Homo sapiens: one gene and its partners. The protein of the gene in region 1 interacts with the protein of each later gene in a pairwise test. Each region holds a gene or a part of one and is shown in the gene's direction. Other genes may lie near its edges.

Region 1 (4,494 bases):
CCAGAAGAAAGTAAACACACACACACACACACACACACACACACACAAACTAGCAAAAAGTTCATCGATTTTGTAAATCATTATATAGATATTCATTCATTTATTCATGTAGCAAAATGTGTTGAATGCCTGCTGTGTGCCAGACAGCTCAGTGCCTGGGTGCGTGGACACAGAGATTAACACAAGAACATGGAAATATGTAATCGTAATGCATGATGAAGTGCTCTCCTTAGCTGATTAGAGGAAGTCAAGAGAAGATCAGAAGGAAAGAGAGGCATTGACTTAGGTTTTCCCCGTCATAAGGTTGGATGGAGGGCCCAGAGAGGAGACATCTGAGGTGGCAAGAACAGCATGCACAGAGCTCAGGGGCGTAGAACCATCTCACTCATTTCAGGAAAGGGAGGTCAGTCAGGATGGTTGGAGCACAGGGGAGAGTTGGAGAGTAGGGGGAGATATTCAGGAGAAATGGGAGGGCCAAATGTGGGACACTCAATCACTCTCTTTTGAATTTTAGGAGTTTTAGGCTTTATCCTATATATATGTGAATATCTCGTAGGCAGGTTAATGAAGTTAAATGATTGACCATAAATTCTTTTCTCTTTTTAGTTACACATTCTTTCCTTTTTTGTATTCCTTGCCTCTTTCCTTTTGTTCCAAGTCCAAAATGAGGTCTTCTGTTCCATCGCAGTTCACTTATGCAGCTCCAAGTATCTGCCATTTCCACGCTTTTATCTGTACTACCCAGTAGTGCTCCATTACCTCAAGGCTCCTAAAATGATAACAGTCAAATAATTAAAGTGAAAATGATTCTCCATGAGAAGATTTCACTTCAAATGAGTCATGGAGACAATCTGGACTTGATTTATAGAAAAGACAGACTTAAACTTGAGACAAGTTTAACCTTTCTGCCAATATAGAAGATTAGATTTGCAAACAATGCCCATTTTCTTTACAATGAATTATTTTCCCTTTTATTTCTATAAGAATTAGTGGCACTTATATTATTATGTATTATGAATTATGTATGACTCATTAAGTTCTACCAAGCTACACTCACATTTAGAAGGTATTGCCAGAAAATCTCGCCTTTAGGGAAACCGAGCTGTCAAAAAGTCAACAGTTACCTAATTGCTCTGGGAAATACAATGAATTTATAACAGTTAGGCTACTGAGGAAACACTTGGATTGCCCAGGCTTTCTGTGGTGGAGAACTTCCTCCTCCAGTGGGAGAAACTGCCAGTAAAGGAAGAATGACGATTTACATACTATAGCAAGGCTAATCTGCCCCAGGTCTTAGTCACGGCCTGCCTATTTGAGACATCCTGGGAAATCCCTATTTGGAAGAGAAGAAAAGTTAAAATCCCAGTTGCAGTGCTTATAACTTTATTCTGTGTAATTCCTATCCACAGTCACTTCTGTTCATTTTTAATGAAAACCTATTGCTGTTATTTTCTATTATGAGTTAACGGTGATGTGTGTTTTTTAAATTTTGTATACTTGCTCTCACCCTAAAATATACCTTAAGAGACTTTTCCCCTGTTTTTCTTTCTGCTTTCCAAGACTCCAGGAAAAACAGCTTCCATGGCACATTTTGTACAGGGCACATCTAGAATGATTGCCGCAGAAAGTTCTACGGAGCATAAAGAGGTAAGAACATATTTCTAGGAGATGAGTTGATCACATCTAGCATTGATGGCATTTCTAGTGGTTAATTGTGCACTTATTAATAAGAACAGAAATGGCTAGTTTGCTTTCTTTAGCTAAGATTTGCTCTATATTTTTAACCAAAATTATGTAACATAGAAAAAAATATCTAAGTAACCAGTACATTGCTTTTAACCCACGGGGCTTAAATTCCTTTCAGCCTTCCAGTTCTGTGGGTTCCTTATTTTGTTCTTGATTTTTGTTCTATAAAAATCTTAAAAGAATACTATATTGGTGTAGGTAGAAATAGAACATATTGTAACAATAGAGTATCTGTAGTAATATTTTTATATATTTACAATTGGTACCATAGATTTTGTTCAGCAACAGAGACTACTGCTAATTGAATGAATGAATTCAAATATTTTCTAGTTTTCTTTTACAGATAACCAAGGTATAATGGGAAACTAAATGGAAACTTCTATTCATTTAAGTTTTTAATTTAGTAGCATCAGACCTTGAATATACATTGGTAAGGATGTTATCATAGAGAAAGAAGTGCCCAGATGCTTTGAACAGAAATTCTACTTTATAGGGAATAATTATAGGAAATTATGTATAGGGAATAACTGTTCCGTAAGCAGCCCTTGCTAGAATCAATGACTGAAAATCTTTGTAGTTACTGCAAATCAGATGCCTTCATTAGCAACTGTAAAGCAAAGTAAATACAAATTGAAAAGGTCCCCCAAACCTTTGTATTTGATTAATTTCGCTTTATTTTATAGAAACCTGAGACATATGAACTATAACAAAATGTTGATTAATCTCCAGAGAAAGCTTTGGTGATACATTTGTGACTTACATGCCATTCCTAGTCACTATGTTTTCTATTTTTCCTCCCTCCTATCCTCCCCCACCTATAACTGAATATTACTTATGAATTTCAAAAACTAGTACTCGTGCAGTTACAAATAGAGCCTCTTGCAGATTTGGTATCTAGATTTTCAGTAATTTTTATTTATTAAAGAAAAATCAAGGGTGAAATGTATTATAATTTTCTTCCAGAGAAAATTGTTTATGGGGAAACAAACAAAAAGCACACTGTCTCATTGTTCCACATCTGGGCTCCCAAAGGCAGGGACATACAAATGTTTGCCAATCACGGATTTTTGTCTACATCACAAACAGAGAGGAGACATTTTTGAGGACCCATAATTTATTCCCTAGAATGGGAATATATTGAACTTTAGTATGAATCAAAATTACCTAGGAAATGTATTAGAAATAGAGGTGCCCTGGCTGCTCTTCTAGAAATTCTGATCCATTGTTCAGGATGCTCTATGTTTAGCAAGCTTAACGGTGACTTTGATGTGCTCTTGTGGTGGGAACCACCATTCTAAAATCCAGTCTTACTGTGCCCCTACTTTGCTGATGACCTCAAGATACACTAAGTAGGGTTGGCTCACAGCATTTTCCAGATCAAAGATGCTTAATAGTTAGTCTGTTCTAACCCAGAATGGGTCCAGTTTCTTGGAAGTCTTCCCCAAAAGAAGAAGGTCCAATTACGGGCCCCAACATACTTGACACTTGGGTTTCAGTGTCACTCTTGGTGCTCAGCCAGAACACCTTCTTGAGGTCAAGAGCAAATATAATCATTCAGAATTTATTGACCCACAGAAGACTGTCTCTTTTTAAATGTGGTCTTAATTGTAACATAGGTCTAAATAGGAAGAAGCTAAGGAAACGAGAACATCTCTGCTTACTTAAAATACCATCAAACCCTAAAATGCTGAAACATAAACAAACAGAGAAAAGATAGAAAATACAGTTTTATAAATAATTTCTGATGAAAAAAGGTGCTTGAAATCCCATGATGATTGCAAAGAACAATTTCCTGTACACATTTCTGGCAAAGACCAACAACATGTTTTGAAAATATTTCTTAATGGTTCACAAATAGCTTTAAGCAACTTAGTGATCCACAGTAACTATTAAGCCTGAAACAGATTACAGATGTAGGAATTACTCTCATCATCCAATAAATTGTATTACTTATATGACTCTGAGATGAGATAGTAATAAGACTATTGAATTATTATAGAGGATCCAGTCCTTTATTTAAGTAAATATTGTTCTTAGTCGATTTAGGCAGATGGCAGACAGCTTCCACAGCTTTTGTGTTATCTTTAAATGAATACTCTCACTCCTGAAAAAAATAACTGAAAAGAAAGGTGGTAAATTTTCATTATGCCAGTAATTTATTATTAATCTAAACTAGTAACCTAGTGACTTTATTCAAAGAGCTGGCTAAAATTACACAGTAATTACACAGTAATGGCTGTATGTGTTTGTCTTTTTCTCGATGATTTTGTCGTTCCTCTGACGTTTACTGGGTCTACTTTTCAGAATATTACTCACATACATGTTCATGGGCACAGCTACCAAAATGACTTTTATGAAATGTTTACTATAAAAATACCTAAAATATATCCATGAAACTTACCTGATTTCTGAATTGTCATTTTTTTGGAAAAGGATTGAAATCCAAATTCATAAAATTTTAATCTCTGACTTACCCGTTATAGTATACAGATATATTTATAATTTATTAAAGAATTATATTGGTAACTAATTTATGTAAAGCATTCTAAAACATAATATGAAGCTGACTCATCCACCAGCCATGATGAAGGACTTAGGGTATGAGGATTATTACTGCTAGAATCAGGTATTTTTTAAATCGCAACAGGAGAGTTGGCCAAATGCATGGGGTTTCTGAGGAACAGTACTTCTGTTTATTTTGTAAACAGCTTTGTTTCAATCTTCTCTCTTTTTTTTTTTCTAAGTGTG
Region 2 (3,940 bases), on another chromosome or scaffold:
TCAAGAACACCCTGACCAACATGGTGAAACCCTGTCTCTACTAAAAATACAAAAATTAACCGGGTGTGGTGGCACTTGGCTGTAATCCCAGCTACTCAGGAGGCTGGGGCAGTAGAATCACTTGAACCTGGCAGGAGGAGGTGGCAGTGAGCCAAGGTTGCGCCACTGCACTCTAGCCTGGGCAACAGCACTTGGCCTTCCAAAGTGCTGGAATTATAGGCGTGAGCCCCTGTGCCTGGTCCCTCTATCCATTTTTAGCCTGTTTCTTTCAAGTGTTTTTAAAATATGTTTATTATGAAACTGAAAGTTTTTCTTTATGACAAATCATATAATTTATCTTTTTCTCTTTACGAAGATTGAAGAATTGGAGGAGAAACTTAATGATGCACTTCACCAGAAGCAGCTACTAACATTGAGATTAGACAACCAATTGGCTTTTCAACAGAAAGATGCCAGGTAAGAAAAGTTTTTTTTAAAAAAAAAACAACATCTATTTAGCAATTAAAAGTAATTTTATTGCCTGTTCATGTTTGTGACTGTAAGCTAAAATAGAGAAATTTTAAGTCAGAGATAGCAATAATTTTTACACCTAGACCACAAAAAAAGTAGGATACTTGATATGGTACATAAAATACAGAAAGTCAAAATTCAACATTCATTCAACAAACATTGGTCAGTGTAAACCATATATGATAAAGGAAGCTCTCTAAACTGACCACCATTAACCTTTCTTCTTTTACGCAACATATTGATTGATTCTCATGACCCATTGGACTTTCCTGGCCTGAAGTACTTTCTATTATTCCTGTGTACTTTCTCTAGCTCAGTTGTGGGCTTATCATGCTTAAATATGCCTATGGCAATTATACTTATGTAACTTAATTAAAAATAATACAAACAATGAAATAAATTCTTTGGAACGATTCAATAAAAGGAACTAAAAAAATTATGAAATTAAATATAAGCAACACAAGTTTAAAGATTGAGGGCAAACATGAAATCCATATAAGATACCTTCATTGGTTTCTTCCTAAATGTCTTTTAGGATCTCATGCCATTGTAAAGAAATTGAACTTGGAAATCATACATGATGATTTACACAAAATCAAATCATACCTCTGTATTCAAAATATCTGGATCCTATATAAAAATGTGAATGTTTAGTTCTATGTTTTAATTACAGGTAAAAGTGTAAAACAGGTAAATTTTCCCTTTTTAAGATTTTACTACTTAACTGATATTGTAAAAAATTATCGGACCTTTTTATCAGCCACTATCACACTAGATTAGTGGACCTCAAACTTTAGCATGTATCAGGAACAGTTGAAGGGCTTGTTAAAGAAGCCTACTGGATCCCACCCTCAGAGTTTCTGACTTGTGGGGGTGGGGTCCTGAGAATGTGCATTTTTACTGGGTTCGCAGGTGATGCAGATGCTGCTGGTCCAGAAACAATACTTTGAGAACCACTGCATTTGATAATAGGTCTTCTATGCTAATTCTGTAAGACATATATCAGATTGAATGATGCTGCTGAGAGGGCAGTCACGAGTCTATTGTAATAAAACTCTTGATAGCTGATGGTCATAAAAAATGGTTGGATTCTGAATATTTTTTGGAGGGCTGATGGATTCAATGTGGGGCTTAAGAGAAAAAGGGGAGTCAAGGATTACATCAAAAGTTTTGGCCTGAACAAATGAAAAAATGGAATTTCTGTCAGCTAAGAAGAAAGAAATCATGGTAGCAAAGGTTTTGTGAGTAAAAAGCCTGAGTTCAATTTGGGACATGTTAAGTTGGAGTTTTCTAGTTAGAAATCCATGTGGAGGTATACGAAAAGTCTCGTGTAGAGGTACAAATCTGGGGATCATTAGGCTATAGACAGTATTCAAGTCATGAGACTAGATGAATTCCCCAAGGAGTGCGTACAGACAGAAGAGGACCAAGTACTCCAACATTAAGACAAAGCAGAAAAGGAGACTGAGAAGGAACCACAGTAAAATAGAAGAAAAATGAACAGTATGATGTCTTGGAAGCCAGGTGATGAAAATGTATCAAGGAAAGAAAGTGACTTGTGTCAAGCTCTATCATTAGATCATGGAGGAAAAGAACTAAGAATTGATCATTTGCAATTTAGATGTCATTGAGATTTCATTGGAGACAGTAAAAATATGATCGCCATGGGTTTAAGAGGAAAGGATTTGGAGACAATAATTATAGACAACTTTTGAGCAAGCTTGCTCCAAAGGGGTGGCTAACAAAGGGGGAAGTGCAGTGAAGTCCAGAGTTGTGGTTTTGTTTGTTCATTTGTTGTAAGATTGAAATAACAGCATGTGTGTCTGTTAATGGGATTGATATAGTAGGGAAGGGGAAAATCAGTAATATGATTTGGCTGTGTCCCCACCCAAATCTCATCTTGAATTATAGCTCCCATAATTCCTACATGTCATGGGAGGGACCTGATGGGAGGTAACTGAATCATGGAGGTGGTCTTTCCCATGCTGTTCTCATGATAGTGAATAAGTCTCACAAGATCTGATGGTTTTATAAATGGGAGTTCCCCTGCACAAGCACTCTTGTCTGCCACCATGTAAGACATGCCTTTGCTTCTCTTTTGCCTTCCGCCATGATTGTGAGGCCTCCCCTGCCATGTGGAAGTCTGAGTCCAGTAAACCTCTTTCCTTTATAAATTACCCAGTCTTGGGTATGTCTTTATTAGTAGCATGAGAGCAGACTAATAACATCAGATTGTCCCTTCCTGATCAGAATCTTTCAGTAGGCAACTAACAATAATGTCTGCTACATGTATTCTTTGAGAATGATGAGTATGTGCAGATTACTGTTTTCATTACCTCATTGGTTGAGTGAATACCTTATGGTGGTTCAGTGTTACCATCTTAAAGAGATATCCTTGAAGTATCAGGATAAAAGGGAAATGAAAATTACTTTAATAAGTAGAGTCCTTGATGTTTAACATTAAACCTTAAGCAGAAGAAATATATAATTTTATAATTTGAATTTCTAAAATTATTCTTTAAGAATATCAATTCTCTGTTTAATAATTTATATGGTTACACATTTAATAATTAGTATGGAATTGTCATTTCATATTTAACTGATTAATATGAGTAAATAAGTATTTAGCTGGAGTAAGTAAATAATACTGTCAGGTTTCTGATTTCCTAACTTTATGTTGATATAAATAGGAAACTGTGAGAAAATTAGATCTCAAATACTTTTTTAAAGCCTGCCATAAATTCTCTTCTAATGTAGCAAATATCAAGAATTAATGAAACAAGAAATGGAAACCATTTTGTTGAGACAGAAACAACTAGAAGAGACAAATCTTCAGCTAAGAGAAAAAGCTGGAGATGTTCGTCGAAACCTGCGTGACTTTGAGTTGACAGAAGAGCAATATATTAAATTAAAAGCTTTTCCTGAAGATCAGCTTTCTATTCCTGAATATGTATCTGTAAGTATCTTATATCTATTTTTAACTATGACATATATTTTCAGACTAAAATTTACCATTTATATAGTAGCAATTACTTTTGAAGTACCCAATTGATACATTATTTTATGGCTATGGATGGTGAATGGTGTTGAGATCCAAATTTTAAAGGATCATGACCATTGATCTCCAAAGTCAAGCAATAAATAGGTTTCTGAAGTTAATGACTGCATAGTCCATAGAAATGAATTATCGTAAACTGGTGGTTTCTTACATTCTCAAAATGAAAAATTATAAACAACAGAGTAGTTGTTGCCAGGGGTTGGTTGGGGATAGTGGGAGAGAGGAGTCAGCGTGGTTATAAAGGGATAGGATGAGAAAGAACTTTGTGGTGAGAGATTGGCGCAAGATCTTGATTGCAGTGCTGGTTACACAAATCTAGAACACCTAGGATTAATCTATGGCAGTGGTCTCAAATATTTTGGTGTCAGCATT
Region 3 (3,940 bases), on another chromosome or scaffold:
CTTTTTCTTTTTAAACAGTTCCTTATGTTAGCCATGAAATCTAGCTGGGGCTGTGTGGTTTCTGATTCCCCCTGGCTTATTCTTTACTTTTTCCTACTTTTCCAGGCTCAGCAGGGAGCTGCTGGCTGAGAAAGAGCCTGAAGTCTTGCAGGACCCACTGGATAGATGTTATTCGACTCCTTCAGGTTATCTTGAACTGCCTGACTTAGGCCAGCCCTACAGCAGTGCTGTTTACTCATTGGAGGAACAGTACCTTGGCTTGGCTCTTGACGTGGACAGTGAGTACCTTACTATGAAGGTGATAAGCCTCCACCTGGTCTTCCAGATAGGGGTGATATTCCTGTTCCAAGTGGCCCTTACTGACCCGAGAGATGTCATTGCCGCAGGCAGGACCTATGGGCGCATATAGGTTGTAATGAAACTGTAGTCTCAGTTGGAAGCCTAGACATGAAATGGGTCAGTGAGCAAGGCTCTATTCCTAGTCTCCAGCCATGCCTGTGGCAACCTGAGCCCGCTCTCAGCACATTGGACCCAGGCAGATGTAAAAAATTCACAGAACTATGATTTGGACTCAAGGGTTTGTAGATTTCCTCCTTCATTCTAATTTCAGTGTCTAAAATTCTTACATCCATGAACGAGCTGGGCATTTGATGAGACAGGGCTGAATACTGCAGTTTTCCTCCTAGAAATCATCTGGGGCATTTTCTTTGAACTGATGGGAACAATAAGGCATAACTGTTTGCACAAACTTGGGATAAGTGATTTTGGGATAACGATCTTCCAGAATGGGGATATTTCACCCTTGGTTCTGAGATGCAAACCAAAGAATATCATGACCAGCTTTCAGGCCTCCTGAAGTATATCTCTCACATTGTCCTGTTCTCATGCTGAGGAGCCTGAGATCCCTGTGTGGGGATTAGACAGTGGACTGTTATGGGTGTAGGTGAATTGGCTTATTTTGTCTGTCCCTGTCTGAATGTATTGCAGGAATTAAAAAGGACCAAGAAGAGGAAGAAGACCAAGGCCCACCATGCCCCAGGTAACTGAGCAATTGTGAACAGCTACTTCTGTGTTGACATCTGGAGACTCCTGGTTCAGGGAAAACAGAGCGGGCTGACATTATCGATTACATCTTTTCAAGCAAGCCTGAATTATTCCTACTAACATTGCTGTTGGTTTTCATTGCAGTAGATATTTAGGTTTCCATTTCTTCCTCCCCTTATCATTTACTAACCTACTGTAGGTGGACCAGACTTCAAAAACTGTATTCTCATGGCGACTGCATGGAAACTTGAACACATTTTATGGAAAATTATTGAGCACAGTCTTTTCATGATCACTGTATGCTGTGTGTCCTGAGGGCACTAACTCAGAGTGTCCTGTTACTCCCTCATCAGTGTGTCACCTGGACAATTCACTGAGCTCGTTCTCTCTCTCTCTGTGTGTGTGTCTGTGTGTGTGTGTGTGTCTATCTGTCTTTCTCTTTCATTCTTTTCCATTTGGCCCTGTTCTGTCCCAACATGAAGGCAATAATTTGTTACCTCATTAATGGATCTATCCTTTTACTTTCTTAACCACTTCCTTATGCTACCCATGAAACCTAGTTGGGGCTCTGTTGTGTGTGATTTCCCCTGGCTTATTCTTTACTTTTTCCTCCTTTTCCAGGCTCAGCAGGGAGCTGCTGGAGGTAGTAGAGCCTGAAGTCTTGCAGGACTCACTGGATAGATGTTATTCAACTCCTTCCAGTTGTCTTGAACAGCCTGACTCCTGCCAGCCCTATGGAAGTTCCTTTTATGCATTGGAGGAAAAACATGTTGGCTTTTCTCTTGACGTGGGAGGTGAGTACCTTTCTATGAAGGTGATAAGCATCCACTGAGTCTTCCATATAAAGATCATATTCCTGCTCCAAGTGGCCATTACTGAGCTGAGAGATGTCATTGCCGCAGTGAGGACCTATAGGCACATGTAGGTTGAATGAAACTCTAGTTCTACCTGGAAGCCCAGACATGGGATGGGTCAGTGAGCATGGCTCTCTTCCTAGTCTCAGGCCATACCTGTGGCACTCTGATTCTACTCTCATGACATTGGACCTGGGCAGATGTGACAAATTCAGAGAACTATGATTTTGACTCAAGGGTTTGTAGATTTCCTTTTTCACTCTAATTTCAGTGTCTAAAGTCCTCACAACCATGAACAATCTGAGTATTTGATGAGACAGGGCTAAATATTGCAGTTTTTCTCCCAGAAATCATTTGAGGGTATTTGCTTTAAATTGATTGGAAAAATATGGCATAACTGTTTGCACAAACTTGGGACAAATGATATTGGGATAACGATCTACTAGAATAGGGACATTTTACCCACAGTTTCTGGGAGAAAAACCGAGGAATTTCTATCATGACCAGCCTTCAGGCCTCCTGAAATATATCTCTCACAGTGTCCTATTCTTATGCTGAGGAGCCTGAGGTCCCTGTGTGAGGATTAGACAGTGGATTGTTATGTGTGTAGGGGAATCAGCTTAATGTGTCTGTCCATGTCTGAATTTATTGCAGAAATTGAAAAGAAGGGGAAGGGGAAGAAAAGAAGGGGAAGAAGATCAAAGAAGGAAAGAAGAAGGGGAAGAAAAGAAGGGGAAGAAGATCAAAACCCACCATGCCCCAGGTGACTTTCAGCAATTGTGGATGCTTAATTCTGTGTTAACACCTGGAGGCAACAGATTCAGGGAAACCAGAGTGTGTTTGATGTCATGTTTTCAACGAAGGCTGAATTACTCCTACTGTCATTGCTGTTGGTTTTCATTGCAGTAGATGTTTAGGTTTCCATTTCTTCCTCCCCTTATCATTTACTAGCGTACCATAGGTTGACCATACTTCAAAAGCTGTACTCTCATGGCCACTGCATCGAATTTTGAGCATATTTTATGGAAAACTATTGAGCTCACTCTTTTCATGATCACAGTTTGCTGTGTGTCATGAGGGCACTAACTCAGAGTGTCCTTTTACTCCCTTACCAGTATGTCACCTGGCCAATTCACTAGGTCACTTTCTCTCTGTCTCTGTCTCTGTCTCTCTCTCTCTGTCTTTCTCTTTCATTGTTTTCTACCTGGCCCTGTTCTATCCCAACATAAAGGCAATAAATTTTTTTTTTTACCTCATTAATGGATCTATCCTTTTTCTTTTCTAACCACTTCCTTATGTGACTTCTGAAATCTAGTGGGGCTCTGTGGTGTCTGATTTTCCCTGGCTGCTTCTTTAGTTTTGTCTCCTTTTCCAGGCTCAACAGCGTGCTGATGGAAGTGGAAGAGCCTGAAGTCTTACAGGACTCACTGGATGGATGTTATTCGACTCCGTCAATGTACTTTGAACTACCTGACTCATTCCAGCACTACAGAAGTGTGTTTTACTCATTTGAGGAAGAGCATATCAGCTTCGCCCTTTACTTGGACAATAGGTTTTTTACTTTGACGGTGACAAGTCTCCATCTGGTGTTCCAGATGTTAGTCATATTCCCACAATAGGCAGCCCTTACTAAGCCGAGAGATGTCATTCCTGCAGGCAGGACCTATAGGCACGTGAAGATTTGAATGAAACTACAGTTCCATTTGGAAGCCCAGACATAGGATGGGTCAGTGGGCATGGCTCTTTTCCTATTCTCAAACCATGCCAGTGGCAACCTGTGCTCAGTCTGAAGACAATGGACCCACGTTAGGTGTGACACGTTCACATAACTGTGCAGCACATGCCGGGAGTGATCAGTCGGACATTTTAATTTGAACCACGTATCTTTGGGTAGCTACAAAATTCCTCAGGGATTTCATTTTGCAGGCATGTCTCTGAGCTTCTATACCTGCTCAAGGTCAGTGTCATCTTTGTGTTTAGCTCATCCAAAGGTGTTACCCTGGTTTCAATGAACCTAACCTCATTCTTTGTGTCTTCAGTGT
Region 4 (3,940 bases), on another chromosome or scaffold:
TGGCGCATGTCTGTAATCCCAGCTACTCAGGAGCCTGAGGCAGAAGAATCGCTTCAGGAGAACCCAGGAGGCAGAGGTTGCAGTGAGTGGAGATTGCGCCATTGCACTCCAGCCTGGGCAACAGAGCGAAACTCTATCTCAAAAAAAAAAAAAAAAGCATAGCAGTCTGAATTTACCCAACTTTCTAAATATATCAAATACCGAAGTTAAAGTTCCATACTTAGGATTACATTGACAATCTAGTCTTAATAAAATTTCTTTCGTCTCTTACTTTTTGGGCTAACCAACTCCTTGTGAATTCTTTTTATTTCTTTTTTTTTAAGTTTATTTTTTTCTTTCCTTGTTTCCATTGGGCTTGGATTGGATTCTTTCTGTTATTAGAATTGTTATGAACTTTCCAGTGATTTAATCAAAGCGTCTCTTGACAGATGATCTGCCTCGGATGCGATTCAAGTGCCCGTACTGCACACATGTGGTGAAGCGGAAGGCAGACCTAAAGCGCCACCTTCGTTGTCATACAGGAGAAAGGCCCTATCCATGTCAAGCTTGTGGAAAAAGATTTAGCAGGCTAGACCATCTAAGTAGCCATTTTCGAACAGTATGTATGATTTTTTTTCATCGTTTTACTAATTCTTTTTTGGTTTTTGTTTTTGTTTTTTTGAGATGGAGTTTCACTCTTGTTGCCAGGCTGGAGTACAATGGTGTAATCTCAGCTCGCTGCAACCTCTGCCTCCCGGGTTCAAGCAATTCTCCTGCCTCAGCCTCCCAAGTAGTTGGGATACAGGTGTGTGCCACCACGCCTGGCTAATTTTTGTATTTTTAGTAGAGATGGGGTTTCACCACATTGGCCTGGCTGGTCTCAAACACCCAACCTCAGGTGATTCACCTGCCTCAGCCTCCCAAAAGTGCTGGGATTACAGGCATGAGCCACCACGCCCGGCCTTGTTTTGTTTTTTTTTTTTGAGACAGGGTCTCTCTCTATCGCCCAAGCTGGAGTGCAGTGGTGCCATCTCAGCTCACTGCAGCTTTTGTTTTTTTTTTTGAGACAGGGTCTCTCTCTATCGCCCAAGCTGGAGTGCAGTGGTGCCATCTCAGCTCACTGCAGCCGCGACTTCTCAGGCTCAAATTATCCTCCCGCCTCAGCCTCCTGAGTAGCTGGGACTACAGGCCTGCACCAACATGCCAGGCTAATTTTTGTATTTTTATATTTTTTGTAGAGATGGGGTTTCATCATGTTGCCCAGGCTGGTCTTGAACTCCTGGGGTCAAGTGATCCACCTGCCTCAGCCTCCCAAAATGCTGGGGTTACAGGCGTGAGCCACAGTACCTGGCCCATCATTTTACTTCTTAAGAAATATGTACAGTTGGCCAGGCACAGTGGCTCACACACGTAATCCCAGCACTTCGGGAGGCCAAGGCGGGCAGATTGCTTGAGGCCAGTTCAGTTCAAGACCAGCCTGGTTGGCTGGGCGCGGTGGCTCACGCCTGTAATCCCAGCACTTTGGGAGGCCGAGGCAGGCGGATCATGAGGTCAGGAGATCGAGACCATCCTGGCTAACATGGTGAAACCCCGTCTCTACTAAAAATACAAAAAAATTAGCCAGGCGTGGTGGCGGGCGCCTGCAATCCCAGCTACTCAGGAGGCTGAGGCAGGAGAATGGTGTGAACCTGGGAGGCGGAGCTTGCAGTGAGCCGAGATTGCATCACTGCACTCCAGCCTGGGCGACTGAGCGAGACTCCATCTCAAAAAAAAAAAAAAGACCAGCCTGGCTAACATGGTGAAACCCCATCCACCAAAAATACAAAAATTAGCTGGCATGGTAGCGCACACCTATAATCCCAGCTACTCAGGAGGCTGAGGCACGAGAATTGCCCAAACCCAGGAAGTGGAGGTTACAGTGAGCTGAGATCGCGCCACTGCACTCCAGCCTGAATGACAGAGTGAGACACTGTCTAAAACAAAAAACAAACAAAAAAAATACATTTATGGGCTTTAGGATCATCTCATTTGCTGAGGGAAATGTTTTCACACAACTCTACCATATTTAAAATTCTTCCAACTTAGTGTTTTTACTTTGCACGTAAAGCATAATTATGTATATTGATTTTTAATCTCCTTCAAGACCTTGAAGTGGGGTATATTCTTTTGATGGTAAATAGTTTTATATTTCCATTTTAATTCACTTAGTCTAATATGTTTTTATATACTGGTCTGTTCAGAGCCAAAGATAATATAAACTGTATAAATGCTTTAAGTGTCTAGGTCAGAATCACCACTGTAGATACTCAGCATCTACCAGTGATTACTGAATCCTTGTCTGGTAGGATTTCAGTCTAGTTGCGGCTGTCCAACCAAAGGAGGTCTCCACTACACCTGCTTTCTTTTTTCTTTTTTTTTTTGAGACAGAGTCTCGCTCTGTTGCCCAGGCTGGAGTGTAATGGCGTGATCTTGCCCCACTGCAACCTCTGCCTCCCAGGTTCAAACAATTCTCCTGTCTCAGCCTCCCGAGTAGCTGGGACTACAGGTGCCCACCTAGTTTTTGTATTTTTAGTAGAGATGGGGTTTCACCATGTTGGCCAGGCTGGTCTTGAATTCCTGACCTCAAGTGATCCATCCACCTCGGCCTCCCAAAGTACTGGGATTACAGGCGTGAGCCACCACGTCTGCTGGTCTTATATTTTTAGATATCATATGGTCTCAGGAATTTGAGGAATTGTATTGGTTTATTATGTTTGGATCCACAATTATTATTCCTTTTGACACTCAAATTTTTAGTTTTATCCAGTGAACAGTCTCTACCTTGATGCTGGCTCTTGTCTCCTTTTGTCACAACTCCATTAAATTTTGAAAGTGTCCTTGTTCTCTGGCTCCAAAAGAGGCCTAGACTCACTTTGTACTTTCCCTACCACAGAGCTGGAATCAGCCATTTCTCAATCCATTTCCTTTAGTGGAAAGTGAAATTAGAGCCCAAAGTCTGGGCAGTCATTGTTACGGAGGTGTCATTTCTTTTACACTATTTCAGTGGATAGAGTTAGAAGATACATATTTTGGAGGGATGGACATGAATCTGTATCAGAGCTTGTAACAAAAACAATACCACATTTGATACCCATAGTTTTGTTTGTTTGTTTGTTTGTTTTTTGAGACAGAGTCTCGTTCTGTCATCCAGGCTGGAGTGCAGTGGCACGATCTCAGCTTACCACAACCTCCACCTGCTGGGTTCAAGTGATTCTCCTGCCTTGGCCTCCCGAGTAGCTGGGATTACAAGCACATATCCGGCTAATTTTTTTTTTTTTTTTTGTATTTTTAGTAGAGATGGGGTTTCACCATGTTGGCCAGGCTGGTCTTGAACTCCTGGCCTCAAGTGATCCACCCACCTCCACTTCCCAAAGTGCTGGGATTACAGATGTGAGCTACTACGCCCAGCCTAATACGCATAATATTACTATCTCAGGAGAAATCAGAATTCATTCAAATCATGTACTTTTAATGTTTACTGATTAATATGTCAACAGTTACACACAGGATAATAACTGTACTAGTGGTAATTCCATACATTTTCCTACATATTTTACCAGACTGTATTAGCTTTCTTGGATTTTTTTTTTTTTTTTTTTTTTTTTTTGAGATGAAGTCTCACTGTGTCATCTAAGCTGGAGTGCAGTGGCACAATCTCAGCTCACTGCAACCTCCGCCTCCCGGGCTCAAGTGATTCTCCTGCCTCAGCCTCCCGTGTAGCTGGGATTACAGGCGTGTGCCACCATGCCCAGCTAAGTTTTGTATTTTTTTTTAGTAAAGATGGAGTTTTACCATATTGGCCAGGCTGATCTCAAACTGCTGACCTCAAGTGATCCACTCACCTCAGCCTTCCAAAGTGCTGGGATTACAGGTGTGAGCCACAGTGCCCAGCTTCTTGGAGTTTTTTACTGTGTTTGGTGCC

What was found.
Region 2: the proteins of TNIP3 (region 1) and PIBF1 interact in a two-hybrid assay, tested with the Homo sapiens proteins (one large-scale study listed by BioGRID).
Region 3: the proteins of TNIP3 (region 1) and NBPF19 interact in a two-hybrid assay, tested with the Homo sapiens proteins (one large-scale study listed by BioGRID).
Region 4: the proteins of TNIP3 (region 1) and ZBTB8A interact in binary tests that used the Homo sapiens proteins (3 or more experiments, as listed by UniProt).

What each region holds. Positions count from the first base shown.
Region 1 is NC_000004.12:121,161,213-121,165,706, reverse strand, and holds the start of TNIP3 (TNFAIP3-interacting protein 3), read left to right. Parts: upstream 1-1,385; 5' UTR 1,386-1,560; coding exon of another isoform or gene 1,561-1,581; coding exon 1,582-1,647; intron 1,648-4,490; coding exon 4,491-4,494. UniProt on the Homo sapiens protein: Binds to zinc finger protein TNFAIP3 and inhibits NF-kappa-B activation induced by tumor necrosis factor, Toll-like receptor 4 (TLR4), interleukin-1 and 12-O-tetradecanoylphorbol-13-acetate.
Region 2 is NC_000013.11:72,792,092-72,796,031, forward strand, and holds part of PIBF1 (progesterone-induced-blocking factor 1), read left to right. Parts: intron 1-355; coding exon 356-456; intron 457-3,267; coding exon 3,268-3,466; intron 3,467-3,940.
Region 3 is NC_000001.11:149,551,222-149,555,161, forward strand, and holds part of NBPF19 (NBPF family member NBPF19), read left to right. Parts: intron 1-105; coding exon 106-278; intron 279-987; coding exon 988-1,039; intron 1,040-1,665; coding exon 1,666-1,838; intron 1,839-2,552; coding exon 2,553-2,661; intron 2,662-3,273; coding exon 3,274-3,517; 3' UTR 3,518-3,940.
Region 4 is NC_000001.11:32,594,626-32,598,565, forward strand, and holds part of ZBTB8A (zinc finger and BTB domain-containing protein 8A), read left to right. Parts: intron 1-428; coding exon 429-598; intron 599-3,940. UniProt on the Homo sapiens protein: May be involved in transcriptional regulation.